3 separate regions of the Homo sapiens genome follow, and regions 2 and 3 are each linked to region 1. The links come from fine-mapping of genetic effects on gene expression. A gene starts in region 1. Each other region holds a variant in brackets. All regions are shown on one strand. Distances are from middle to middle. Region 1 holds the start of DPH1 (diphthamide biosynthesis 1). Region 2 overlaps RTN4RL1 (reticulon 4 receptor like 1). Region 3 overlaps SMG6 (SMG6 nonsense mediated mRNA decay factor).

Region 1 (4,318 bases):
GGGCGTGAGTGTGAGAAGCAGAGTTATTTCAGGCCTCAGGAGGGTTGGGTGCTGCCTTGGAGTCCAGCCAGGGAGTGGGGGCGAGTGAAGGCGGGTGTTGTGGTGTACTGTGGGGGTGCACTGTGCCCGCCTTCTTGTCAGGCAGTAATTACTCAGACTGCTGAGTAACTCAGGCAGGGAGACCCCCACAGACAGATGGAGGTGCCCTCAGCCCAAGCTGAATGGCAGCCCCCAATGTCCTGCACCACGGAGTCTTGGGGAAGCATTCTCACATCTGTTCTTCATGTCCAGTTCTCCTAGGCATCATCCGGCTTCCTAATGGGGGCCAGAGCAGCTCATTAGGCACAGCGGGTGCGGGGCAATGTTACTAGAGGGATGGGACTTTTGCCATCAAACAGGCCCCACCTCTGATGAGGGAAAGGTCCCAAGGGATATGGCGCCTGCTAGGGAGAAGCCATTGCTCAGTTGGAGCCAGTCCTTTCCCCTTGAAACTCCATGCTGCAGTCACAGCTAAGGCTGTCCACAGGCTGGGCAGCAGTGTCCTGAGAGAGGAGGGGCTGAGCTCCCAGAATTCAGATCTTGCACCCTGGGGATCCAGAGAAGCTGGGGGGAGATGGGAAGGTCTAGTCCGGACGCTTATCGAGTTGAGGGGAGTGTTCCTGGGACCCACATTGGTCACTTTTCTGTCTAGAGCTACCTGTCCTAAGAGTGCCGGTGGCCTGGGGGGCACAGCACTGACCCTTGGTGATGGTCCCTCAGCTGCTCACTCCCTGCCTGTCCAGCCATTCCTCCTCTCTGGGCAGCCTCCCAGGCAGGGCCTGTCTCTGGCTGCTTGTTTTTACTTCTCCCTGCACCTTAATTAGGGGTTTCCAAGCAGGGAGGGCCTCTGGGGGAGCCCGAGGACACAGAGCTGACTTAAAGGGCCAGCTGTGATCACAGCACCACCGCAGAGAGAGGAGGAGGATGCCAGGGGGCTGGGTAGACCGTCAGACCTGGAAGACCATTGTTCCACGGGACAGACTGCTGAGGGCCAGTCCTGCAGGTACTTTGCTCTTCCACAGGTCAAAGCCGTCTCACTGGCTGTCTTCTCTTTGGGGTCTCTGGGGCTCTGGCCAGTGATCAGGAGAAAGACCAGCCCTGAGGGGCAGGGCAAAGGTTGGCCAGGGTCCAGAAGGGTTAGACATCACAGTCCTCCACTGCCCACCTTCCCAGGAAAGCACCCTCAGGCTGTGGGCCTTCCCCAGAGGGGCAGTTTCTACAGGGTCTACGCAGTGGATTCTAAAGGTGATAAAGGCTGGGTGCAGTGGCTCGCGCCTGTAATCCCAGCACTTTGGGAGGCCAAAGTGGGAGGATTGCTTGAGTCCAGAGGTTCAAGACCAGCCTGAGCAAAATAGTGAAACCTTATCTCTACTAAAAAAAAAAAAAAAAAAAAAAAAAAAAATTAGCTGAACGTACGCCTGTGGTCCCGGGTACTCAGGGGGCTGAGGCAGGAAGATGAATTGAGCCCAGAAGGTTGAGACTGCTGTGAACCATGATCGCACCACTGCACTCCAGCCTGGGCGACAGACCAAGACCCTGTCTCAAAAAAAATAATTTAAAAAGCTGATAAGGGCGATCCACAAACCTGCACCAAGACTCTCAACTTGGAGCTGGGCTGGTGGTCCCTGAGTTCTGTCCTGCCGGACAGTAGAGTCCCCCTAGGTAGGGAACGTGGCCCCACACGGCGGCCGGGTGACCGACCACTGCTTACCAGGAGGGGAGACTGGCAGGGGGGGCTCAAGGAACATCTGGTGGGTGTCCCCTTCACAAGACTCGGCCTGCAGAGTTCGTGCAGGGAGTTCGCACATAGGAGAGCACCGGTCCGGGAGTGCCAGGCTCGTGCCCGGCCGGGGAGAGGAGTGGGAGACTAAGTCGCAGGGCAAGGGCAACTGCATAGTCGGGGACCTCTAGGGAATCCTGAGTCCCGGCATTCTGGGCTGGGGTGGAGCCCACTACAGCCCCGCCCCTATCTCCTCCTTTATGGCCCCGCCCAGCGGGTATCCCCCGCCCCCGCTGGCCGATCGGCGATCGATCGCAATGTCTGCGCTCTCCGCGTTCTTCCAGCGCTGTCTTTTTAGTACCACATGCGCAGGCAGGTGATGGCGGCGCTGGTCGTATCCGGGGCAGCGGAGCAGGGCGGCCGAGACGGCCCTGGCAGAGGTGGGTGCTGGAACGCTGCGCCCTCCAGACCTCGCATCTCGGGGCGGGGCCCCCAAGTTAGGGACAGGACCAACCCCCTTTAACGGCGGCGGCGCCTTTCTCCGCTAGATCCCGCTGTTAGTCGCCTTGGGCCGCTGTCACCAGCTCGGGGTCGCTGTCAGCCGGAGCCCAGGGGTACCAGTCTTTTGCAGCTTTAGGGCACGACCGAGAGCAGCCCTTAATCCTCCAATCGGAAACTACAGCCTTGTCTTGGCGGGTAGACGGATAAAATGGACTCGACGGGGAGGGAAAGGGCCAGGCCAGATGCAGCGGGCATTTTACGAGTGCGCCCTCAGGGAATGCTTTCAGGGAAGAGGCAAAAGGTTTCATTCGCCAGGCATTAACTGAGCGCCCACCGAATGCCAGGCCTGCGCTGGGTGCAGGTACTAGAATCAGAGATCTCAGTCTACTGGGGGAATGTTAATGTAAACATATCATAGCCACGTGATAAAGGAGGAGGTGCCTACTGGTCCCTGGGACACATTGAAGGGCTAATGTTAGCAGTTCCTTACACGCCAGCGACCACTAGGGACCTGTCAGAGGAGGATCTGTAATGGGCCTAGGAAGCCTAGGCTGATTGTCCAAGGCTTTTGAAACAACTGGCCAAAAACCATAGCAGTGGTAACGTTCAAATCTGATCTCAGGGCCCCAGCCTCCGCTGGACCATCCCCACCGCCGCCCACACAGTGGGTGAAGCCTCATGTCTGGGCGGGTCCCTCCTATCATAGTGTGGGGCCCTAGCAGAAGTTGTGGCACATAGCACAGTCTCAATACATATTCGTTGAATAAGTTAATTTCTTGCCTTTTCATATCCTCAGACTCTGTGGCTCCTGAAGAGATAACGGGGTTGAACTAAGCTTAATTGTCGGGGCAGGGCATAGTGGCTTACACCTTTAGTCTGAGCACTTTGGGAGGCTAAGGAGGATTGTGTGAGCCCAGGAATTCCACACCAGTCTGGGAAACATAGGGGGACCCTGTATGCACAAAAAAATAAAAAATAGCCGTGCGTGGCCGGGCACGGTGGCTTACACCTGTAATCCCAGCACTCTGGGAGGCTGAGGCGGGCGGATTACCTGAGGTCAGGAGTTTGAGACCAGCCTGGCCAACATGGTGGAAACCCTGTCTCTACTAAAAATACAAAAATTAGCCGCGTGTGGTAGCACACGCCTGTAATCCCAGCTACTCGGGAGGCTGAGGCAGGAGAATTGCTTGAGTCCGAGAGGCTGAGGTTGCAGTGAGCCGAGATTGCACCACTGCACTCCAGCCTGGCCAACAGACAGAGTGAGACTCTGTCTCAAAAAAAAAAAAAAAAAAAAAAATTAGCCCTGCGTCTTGGCACATGCCTGTGGTCCTAGCTACTGGGGAGGCTGAGGTGGGAGGATTATCGTTTGAGCCCAGGACGTCGAGGCCGCAGTGGACCATGATTGCACCCCTGCACTCCAGCCTGGGTGATGGAGTGAGACCCTGCCTTAAAAAATAATAAGATGAATTGTTTATTCAGCTTATTATTTTTTATCCTACTTAGGAGTAGGATGAGACCAGAGTAAGAGTTGCAGTTTGCTAAGGGCTACGGTTTCCCCTTTACTCCAGGAGTTGTAATTATGTGTATACCTGTCTTTTCCCCCACTAGACTGCTGGTCTCTAAGGGACAAGGTCACTTTTCTGTCCTTACTGGTACGTCCACCACCCTGACTCAAGTGTTCTTTCCATCCTTCCTGGTTTAAGAGTAAGGAGGAGCAATGGGACAGCTAAGTCAGTTAAATGTATGATGTTTATTTCCCTTTTAAATGAGGAGAGGTAAGCGTGAAAGAACGAACAGTGTGGCCACAGTCAGTGGGGTTCTGAGTCAGGAGGGCAGTCTTTTAAGTTAGTATTCATGTTTAACGGTTTGCTTATAGACCTCATATCTAGAAGCTCAAAACTTCAAGGTGTCCTCAGGAGGTGGGAGAGGGGGGACATTCTCCCAGGCTGGCTGGGCTGGCTAGACTGACTCTTAGGTTTTCCGCAGGGCTGTTCTCTATCAGGGAGCAGTATATGGACTCAGACTCATTCTTTGCCCCTTAGCCCCTGGTGTCACCTC
Region 2 (4,000 bases), 31 kb before region 1:
GAGACCTTCAGGGATCTGCCGCTCACTACCTGCTTCTTCACTCACGACAATCAACCTCACTGGCCTTCCTCGCAAATTATTTCCTGCCTCTGGGCCTTTGCACTTCCTACAGACTTTGTCTGGGATGCTTTTTCCCCAACCCATCGTCCTCAGCCAGCTCCAGGACCAGCCCAGCTGATGTGGCTCCTCTCCCGGCCAAGTACAATATCACATTAACAGTTTTATTCTCTACACTGAGTCCAACCACGATCTGAAATCATCGCATGTGTTTACTTATTAACTGTCGCTCTCTGGAATGCGATCCCTCTGCAGGTCTGAACTTGTCTGTCTGGTAGTCGACAAGTATGACTGGCCCATAGTAGGTGCTCAATCATAAACCACTGCATGAATGAGCAGTGAGGATGTCACCGTCCCCTCTAGGTATTCCCCAGGCAATGCCCAGGAAATCGGGAGCACCACCAGCACACTAAGGTATCCTACTCCAAGGTACAGGAACACCTCGCCAGCCTCCCTCTAGGGCACCCCTAGCTGCCCCTGCCCCACCCAGGCCTCATCCAAGCCCCTGCTGGCTTTAAACCACTAGGACTCGGAGGTCAGGCCTGAGCCGGGGCTGGGAGGTCCCCGCCCCCTTCACAGCCCTCCTACTCGGGCCTGCATCCCCGCAGACCCCCGACCCCAGCTGACGCCCTCTGAGAAGGGAGGTGACAAGGGCAGGCCGGCAGGGGCCGGCGCGCTCCTCGCAGGCCTTCTGGGGAAAGCGTGGGCGCAGGTGCCTTCGGTTGGGCTCCTGGGTCTGGGGCCTGGGGGCGGGCAGCGATGTCCCCCTCAGGGTGCCGGGCGCCCCACCCCCACCCCCGCCTCCGCCCCAGGCCGCGATCGATCCCGGCCTCTCCCGGCCTCATTACCGAGGGAGAGCTGCCGGGGCTGGCAGGGGAGCCAGACGGCGGCGGAGGGGGCGGGGAGGCCTCCTTGGCTCCCTGGCCCGGATTAAATATTTACTATGTTTTGTTTGGCCTTTGGGGGAGGGGCGGGGAGGGCTGTCGCATTGATCCGGAGCTGCAGGGCGAGGGCGGTGCCCAGACCCGGCGCCCCAAGGCCTCCCGCAGGCCGACCCGAGCCGAGCGCGCCCTTTGGGCACCGGCCCCGCCCGGGAGGGTCTTCTCGCTCTAGAGCCGGGGGCCCGCGCTGAGAGATCGGGGTTACCGCGCGGGGAGCCGCGGCCGCGCTGGGATCCGTTCCCTCTCGCGGGAGCCGCCGGCCGGGGATCTGCGCACCCCACGCGCCCCGCTCGGGTCGGGCCTCCCCTCCCCGCGGCTGCCCCCGGGCCGGCCACCGCTGCCCAGCGCGCAGGTCCCTGCCGGATCCCCGGCGGCTTTCCTGCCCCCACTTTACAGACGTGAACGCTGAGGCGGAGGGTGGGGGACGTGGGGCCGGCTCGCCTCCTCCTGGGCTCGCCGGGATGTGGCCTCCGAGGTCGCCGCGGCGCTTTCCTGCCCAAGCTGGCGCTGCCGGAGCGCCCGGGCCCCGCTCCCCTCACGGGCCTCGCAGCACAGACGGGGACAGGGGCGGCCTCGCGCGCACGGGGACCCCGGGGTGGGGGTGGGGGTGGGGCTCTGCGAGGGCCCTAAAAACGCTGGGGACGCGGGTTTGACGCACTTTCCCGGCAGCCGAAGACGACCCCGGAGCCCCTTTATTCTCTACGCGCTCATCCCACGCGCAGAACAGACACAGGCCCTGCCCTCACCGAGGGTTCCAGTCGGCTGTGCACAACTGAAGAGCTGCTCCCCCTTCCCTGCACGATGCCATCCTCTCACACACAGGGCGGGGACCACTCCACAGCCCCTTACAGCGATGTTCACTCGCCCCAGAGAGCTGCTCACGCCAGTCTACACCAGACACATGCGCGATCACACACACACACACACACACACGCTGCACTGAATGTGTGCTCATCA[TACACACAC/T]ACACACACACACACCGGCCGGGCGCGGTGGCTCACGGCTGTAATCTCAGCACTTTGGGAGGCGGAGGCGGGCGGATCACGAGATCAAGAGTTGGAGACCATCCTGGCCAACATGGTGAAACCCCGTCTCTACCAAGAATACAAAAATTAGCCGGGCGTGGTGGCGCGCGCCTGTGATCCCAGCTACTCGGGAGGCTGAGGCAGGAGAATCACTTGAACCCGGGAGGAGGAGATTGCAGTGAACCGAGATCGCGCCACTGCACTCCAGCCTGAGCAACAGAGCAAGACTCCGTCTCGAAAAAAATAAAACACACACACACACACACACATGAACTGCCCCATCCCTATCCACGTATGTGCACATGCAGCTCCCAACACCCATACACAAAGAGCTGTTCACCCACTGCCACCCTGTACATGTCGGTGTACACACAAGCACACACGTACACAGAACATCCAGCCTCTTCTTCCTGTCCCTGCACACATGCACAAATACACACTGCAGTGCCCACTCCCTATACATGCCCCCCCCACACACACACGCACAGGCACACACACTCTTGCGTGCTGACTGCAGGCGGCTGGGGAAGAGCTGCAGCCTCCAGCCCTGCTCCTATTTAAAGAGAGGCATTGCTGGAAAAGGAACAAAAGCAAAGCTGGCTATAAATAGCCACCTCCCTCCCGGCTTTTCCTGCCCTCCGGCCTCACGGCCTTGCCTCTTCTCGCCTCTCCTCTCCTGTCTAGGGCCCAGAGCAGCTGGGGCAGGCCTGTCCCCAGGGGGGCAGGCAGTGGGGCCCTGGAGGCCAGGTGGCCAAGTGCTGACCACTGGGCAGGCCAGGGTCCCTGGGCCTGGATGGGTGCAGGGGCACAGGCCGGCCATCTGCAGCCAGCCCTGTGTGCATGTACCCAGCACAGAGGGAGGGAAGCCTGCCTGGGCCAGGGCTGCTGCCTCAGCAGAACTGCAAAGGCTGACAGCTGTGTCAGGGAGAAGGCGTGTCTGCCAAGTAGCAGCCACCGCTGCCCCAGGTGTCCCTACCCAGCCCGGCCAGGCCTTTCCTAGTTTGCTTCCTGGGTTGGCTCCTGGAGCCCAGAGCCAAGGATATTGGGTGCCTTGTTAGGAAGCAGGATGGGGCAGAGGAAGGAATGTCAGGACGGGAGGCAGGGAAGGGACACAAAGTCCTACTTTGGGTTCCAGTTTTTGTTTGTTTGTTTGTTTAAGATGGAGTCTCTCTCTGCCGCCCAGGCTGGAGTGCAGCGGCATGGTCTCGGTGCTACCTCCACCTCCTGGGTTCTAGCGATTCTCAAGTCTCAGCCTCCCGAGTAACTGGGATTACAAGCACATGCCACCATGTCCAGCTAATTTTAGTATTTTATTTATTTATTTATTTATTTTGAGACTGATTTTCGCTTTTCTTGCCCAGGCTGGTGTGCAATGGTGCGATCTCGGCTCACCTCCGTCTCCCAGGTTCAAGTCATTCTCCTGCCTCAGCCTCCTGAGTAGCTGGGATTACAGGGGCGTGCCACCACGTCTGGCTAATTTTTGTATTTTTAGTAGAGATGGGGTTTCGCCATGTTGGCCAGGCTGGTCTTGAACTCCTGACCTCAGGTGATCCGCCCAGCTCAGCCTCCCGAAGTACGGGGATTACAGGGGTGCGCCACTGCAGCTGGCAGGGTTCTGGTTCTATTACCTACGGGTCCAGCAGCCTTGGGCAAGGCTCCAAATCATGCCACCCAGCCTCACCTTCAGCCCCTCTTGGAGGGATGGTGGGAATACTGCATGGAAACAGCTGTGGCTCGCAGGCCTTTGTGAGCTGTGGAGGGTCATGGAATAGGAGACGTGACAGGCTGCCCTCTGTGTCTGAGAATCACTTGATAAAGATAACAATAATAATGTTTTTCATTTACTTTTTTTTTTTTTGTAGTGATGGGGTCTCACTATGTTGCCCAGGCTGGCATTGAACTCCTGGGTTCAAGTCATCCTCCCCTCTCAGCCTCCCAAAGTGCTGGGATTACAGGTGTGAGCCACCACGCCTGGCC
Region 3 (4,317 bases), 49 kb after region 1:
AACAAGACATATGGAGCAGAAAAAGGGCACTCTGCTTTGAGGGACAGCATGAACAAAAACCCGAGTGGAAAAAGGCAGAGCATGCCTAGGGAGTGGAAAGGAAGGTGGGTGTCACTGTCCAGGCAGGAGGGCCTTAGTGTCTGCACAGGCATTTTACGTGCACTGTGGTTCATTCCGAGGCCTCACAGCAGCTCTAATATTGGTGCTTTTACCACTTTCACTAAAAAAGTGTTTAAGAGACGGGGTTTTGCTATGTTGCAGTGGTTATTCACGGGCATGATCACTGCACACCATAGCCTTGTACTCCTGGGCTCAAGCTATCATCCAGCCTCAGCCTCCTGAGTAGTTGGAACCATAGGCACGTGCCCACTGTGTCTGGCATTACTTTCATTATAAAGATGAGGAAACAGGCTCAGAAAAGTTAAATAATCTGCCCAATGTCATATAACTAGTAAGGGTTCATGAGGGATGGGGTAGTGGGAGAAGAGGCTGGAAAAACAGACTGGGAACAGATCAAAAAGCCTTAAATGCCAATAATAGGGAATTAAGACTTTTTTTTACTAGCCAAGCAAAGGCCTGATGATTTCTGAGCAGGGGAGTGGCTCTTTCAGGAAGAGAATGATGGAGGCAGTGCAGTGAATAGGAGCCTGGTGGGCAGGAGCCTGGTATGCTACAAACTCCAGGAGGTGCCACTTACAGAAACAAGGCAAATGGCACCTTCTGGGGCTGTGCAATGCAGGGGCCTTGACTGCTACACTCTAAGCAACTACTTGACCTAGAATAGTAGTAGTGGCAATGGAAACAGAGAGGAGAAGAGGGAATAAATGTGTGAATAAATAGTATTTAATATGAAATTAGATACTAGGGGTTAAAAGCCAGAGTGGAATTTAAGATGATGCTCTAGTTGCTACTATTATTGTCACTGAATACTTTTTTTTTTTTTTTGAGACAGAGTCTCGCCCAGGGCTAAAGTCTAATGGCTCGATCTCGGCTCACTGCAACCTCCACCTTCTGGGTTGAAGTGATTCTCCTGCCTCAGCCTCCTGAGTAGCTGGGATTACAGGCACCCGCCACAACACTCAGCTAGTTTTTGTATTTTTAGTAGAGATGAGGTTTCATCATGTTGGCCAGGCTGGTCTTGAACTCCTGACCTCAAGTGATCTGCCAGCCTCGGCTGCCCAAAGTGCTGGGATTACAGGCATAAGCCACTGCGCCCAGCCACTGAATACATATCTGCTGAGCACTAACTCAGCTTGCTGAGACTAAGGAGTAAAAGGAAGGATGGAGGAGACCAAAAAAAGAATGGTGGTGAGGAAGCCCAGGAGGGTGGTCTGGCGAACAGGGAGAAGACAAGGGGTCATTCATCGATGCTGAAGGGAAGCTGAAGGAAGGTGGCTTTAGGGCCCAAAGACAAAGGGAGGTCAACTATGACACAGACTGAAATTTGATAAAGATAGGTCATTGGTGATTGGTCAACTATGACACAGACTAAGGTTTGATGAAGATAGGTCATCGGTGATTTTTCTTTTTAAGATGGAGTCTTGCTCTGTTGCCCAGGCTGGGGTGCAGTGGCGCAATCTTGGCTCACTGTAACCTCCGCCTCCTGGGTTCAAGAGATTCTCCTGCCTCAGCCTCCCGAGTAGCTGGGACTACAGGCACCCGCCACCACACCCGGCTCACTTTTGTATTTTTAGTAGAGACAGGGTTTCACCATGTTGGCCAGGCTGGTCTCGAACTCCTGATCTCAAATGATCCACCCACCGTGGCCTCCCAAAGTGTTGGCATTATAGGCGTGAGCCACCGTGCCTGGCCATATTGGTGACTTTTGACGCAACAGTTTCCATAACTGCTGGGTTGAGAGTCAAGAAATAACGGTAGAAACAGAATTTCTGGGAAAACAGATGGTAAGGAAGAGCAAGAAAAGAAGCATAAGGGCACTTCGGGAGGCCGTGGCGGGCAGATCACGAAGTCAAGAGATTGAGACCATCCTGGCTAACATGGTGAAACCTGGTCTCTACGAAAAATACAAAAAAAATTAGCTGGGCGTGGTGGTGCATGCCTGTAATCCCAGCTACTTGGGAGGCTGAGGCAGGAGAATCACTTGAACCTGGGAGGTGGAGGTTGCAGTGAGCTGAGATCA[C/T]GACAGCGAGACTCCATCTCAAAAAAAAAAAAGTAAAAGAAGCATGAGGATAAAGCTGTTTTGAGGATCATGCACAAGTTTACATGTAGACCCACAGCAGGGCTGGGGAGGCAGCCACATGACAATGGATGATGCTGGTAGAGGTATTACACACTGATTCCAATGGTAGCAGGGACGTGAATCTGTCTAAAGAATGATGGAGGCTGGGCGCAGTGGCTCACGCCTGTAATCCCAGCACTTTGGGAGGCCAAGGCGGGCAGATCACCTGAGGTCAGGAGTTTGAGACCAGCCTGGCCAACATGGTGAAACCCCATTTCTACTAAAAATACAGAAATTAGCTGGGTATGGTGGCAGGCGCCTGTAATCCCAGCTACTTGGGAGGCTGAGACAGGAGAATCGTTTCAACCCGGGAGGCAGAGGTTGCAGTGAGCTGAGATTGCGCCACTACACTCCAGCCTGGGCAACAGGGCAAGACTCCATCTCAAAACAAAACAAAACAAAACAAAACAAAACAAAACAAAACAAAACAAAAGAATGATGGATCTTGGCCAGTGTGACGGCTCATGCCTGTAATCCCAGCACTTTGGAAGGCAGAGGCGGGCAGATCACCTGAGGTCAGGAGTTCAAGACTGGCCTGGCACACACAGCAAAACCCTGTCTTTACTAAAAATACAAAATTAGCTGGGCATGGTGGCAGGCATCTGTAATTCCAGCTACTCTGGAGGCTGAGGCAAGAGAATCGCTGGAACCCGGGAGGTGGAGGTTGGAGTGAGCTGAGATCATGCCACTGGACTCCAGCCTGGGCAACACAGCGAGACTCTGTCTCAAAACAAAAACAAAAACAAACAAACAAAAAAAAGATGGCTCTCGATTGGTATTTATTCCTCTTCCCTGGCCAGGGTGATTAGACAAATATCAGACAAAGGTGGCCGTTCATGGAGCACATACTAAGTGCCATGCACTATGCTAAGTGCTTTACATACACTGTCTCGTGTAGGCCTCACAGTGACTCTGAGAGATAGGTGCTATTAGCACTTTTTTCTTTTTTCTTTTTTTTTTTTTGAGATGGAGTCTCACCCTGTAGCCCAGGCTGGAGTGCAATGGTGCAAGATTGGCTCACTGCAACCTCCGCCTCCCGGGTTCAAGCGATTCTCTTGCCTCAGCCTCCTGAGTAGCTGGGATTACAGGTGTGCACCACCATGCCCAGCTAATTTTTTGTATTTTTAGTAGAGACAGGGTTTCACCATGTTAGCCAGGATGGTCTCAATCTCCTGACCTCATGATCCGCCCGCCTCAGCCTCCCAAAGTGCTGGGATGACAGGCGTGAGCCACCGCGCCCGGCCAGCACTTTCATTTAACAGATGAGGAAACAGGCTCTGAGAAGCTGAATGATTTGCCCCATGTTACAAAGCTATTTAGGTGGCAGGGCCTAGACTGTCACTGGGTCTGCCTGATCACATGCATCAAACCCTATGCCAAAGGACAGGGTTGGAAATGGGCATCCTTAAAGAAGCGGAGTGGGTGGCTTGATGCTTCCCTATGCACACGGTTCACCTTTAAACGGGGAGCAGGACTGCCTCTTCCCTGTCTGCCCCGAGCCCTAGAGGACAGCAAACGGCCTCACAGCACAAGGGAACAGACCTAGAAGGCCAGGAAGAAACACTTGCTGGGGGTGAAGGCACAGGCCCGTGAGAGGGCTGATGGGGGTCAAAGTCCCTGTGTGGAGATTAAGTAGTTTGTCTCTGCAAGGGTGTAGGGAGTATCTTGTCCAGAGGAGTCTTCCATTTCATTGGGAATCCAGGCAAGCAGACTGTGGCCATGCCATCCTCTCCCTGGGAACAGGCGTTCTGAAGTAAGAATCCACAGCCTCTCCAGGGATATCTGGATAAGGCTCAGGGAAACTCTGAAACCCCTCACATTGTGTGAAAGATCATGTATGTGTGGTGTGCATTTGGAGATTCTCACTGGGGAAGCAGCTTTTCTCAGAGTCTCTGAGAAGACCGTACCCCTGCCTTGGAGCCCAGGATGAGGGAGACTCTAGGCACCAAACCTGCTACCAGAATTTAGTGGTAGAGTGAAAAACGGGTAGAGCTAGAGAGAACACTGCAGGACTGACTCACTCTTAGTGTCCTGCTCAGCTCTGCTCTCTGCCCACATCCTCTCATGCCCTAGACAGC

Evidence for each region. PIP is the estimated chance that this variant, and not a neighbour inherited with it, causes the effect. A credible set is the group of variants that fine-mapping cannot tell apart.
Region 2: its variant is the best candidate, but not a certain one, in a credible set for the expression of DPH1 in Th2 cells (Schmiedel 2018, PIP 0.63).
Region 3: its variant is the best candidate, but not a certain one, in a credible set for the expression of DPH1 in whole blood (TOPMed, PIP 0.87).

The regions. Positions count from the first base shown.
Region 1 is chr17:2,028,032-2,032,349 of GRCh38, forward strand. DPH1 (diphthamide biosynthesis 1) reads left to right here and starts at 2,122. Exons shown (of 13, transcript NM_001383.6): 1 at 2,122-2,199. The coding sequence starts at 2,139. RefSeq lists enhancers at 1,870-2,461, 2,462-3,053.
Region 2 is chr17:1,997,187-2,001,186 of GRCh38, forward strand. All of the region lies in intron 1 of RTN4RL1 (reticulon 4 receptor like 1), which reads right to left. Among named protein-coding and RNA genes, the nearest start is that of RTN4RL1-AS1, 19 kb to the right of the region's middle. RefSeq lists an enhancer at 2,799-3,309. The variant TACACACAC/T (reference allele first, on the strand shown) is at 1,956.
Region 3 is chr17:2,077,452-2,081,768 of GRCh38, forward strand. The region is part of intron 15 of SMG6 (SMG6 nonsense mediated mRNA decay factor); the gene reads right to left. Among named protein-coding and RNA genes, the nearest start is that of SMG6-AS1, 10 kb to the right of the region's middle. The variant C/T (reference allele first, on the strand shown) is at 2,141.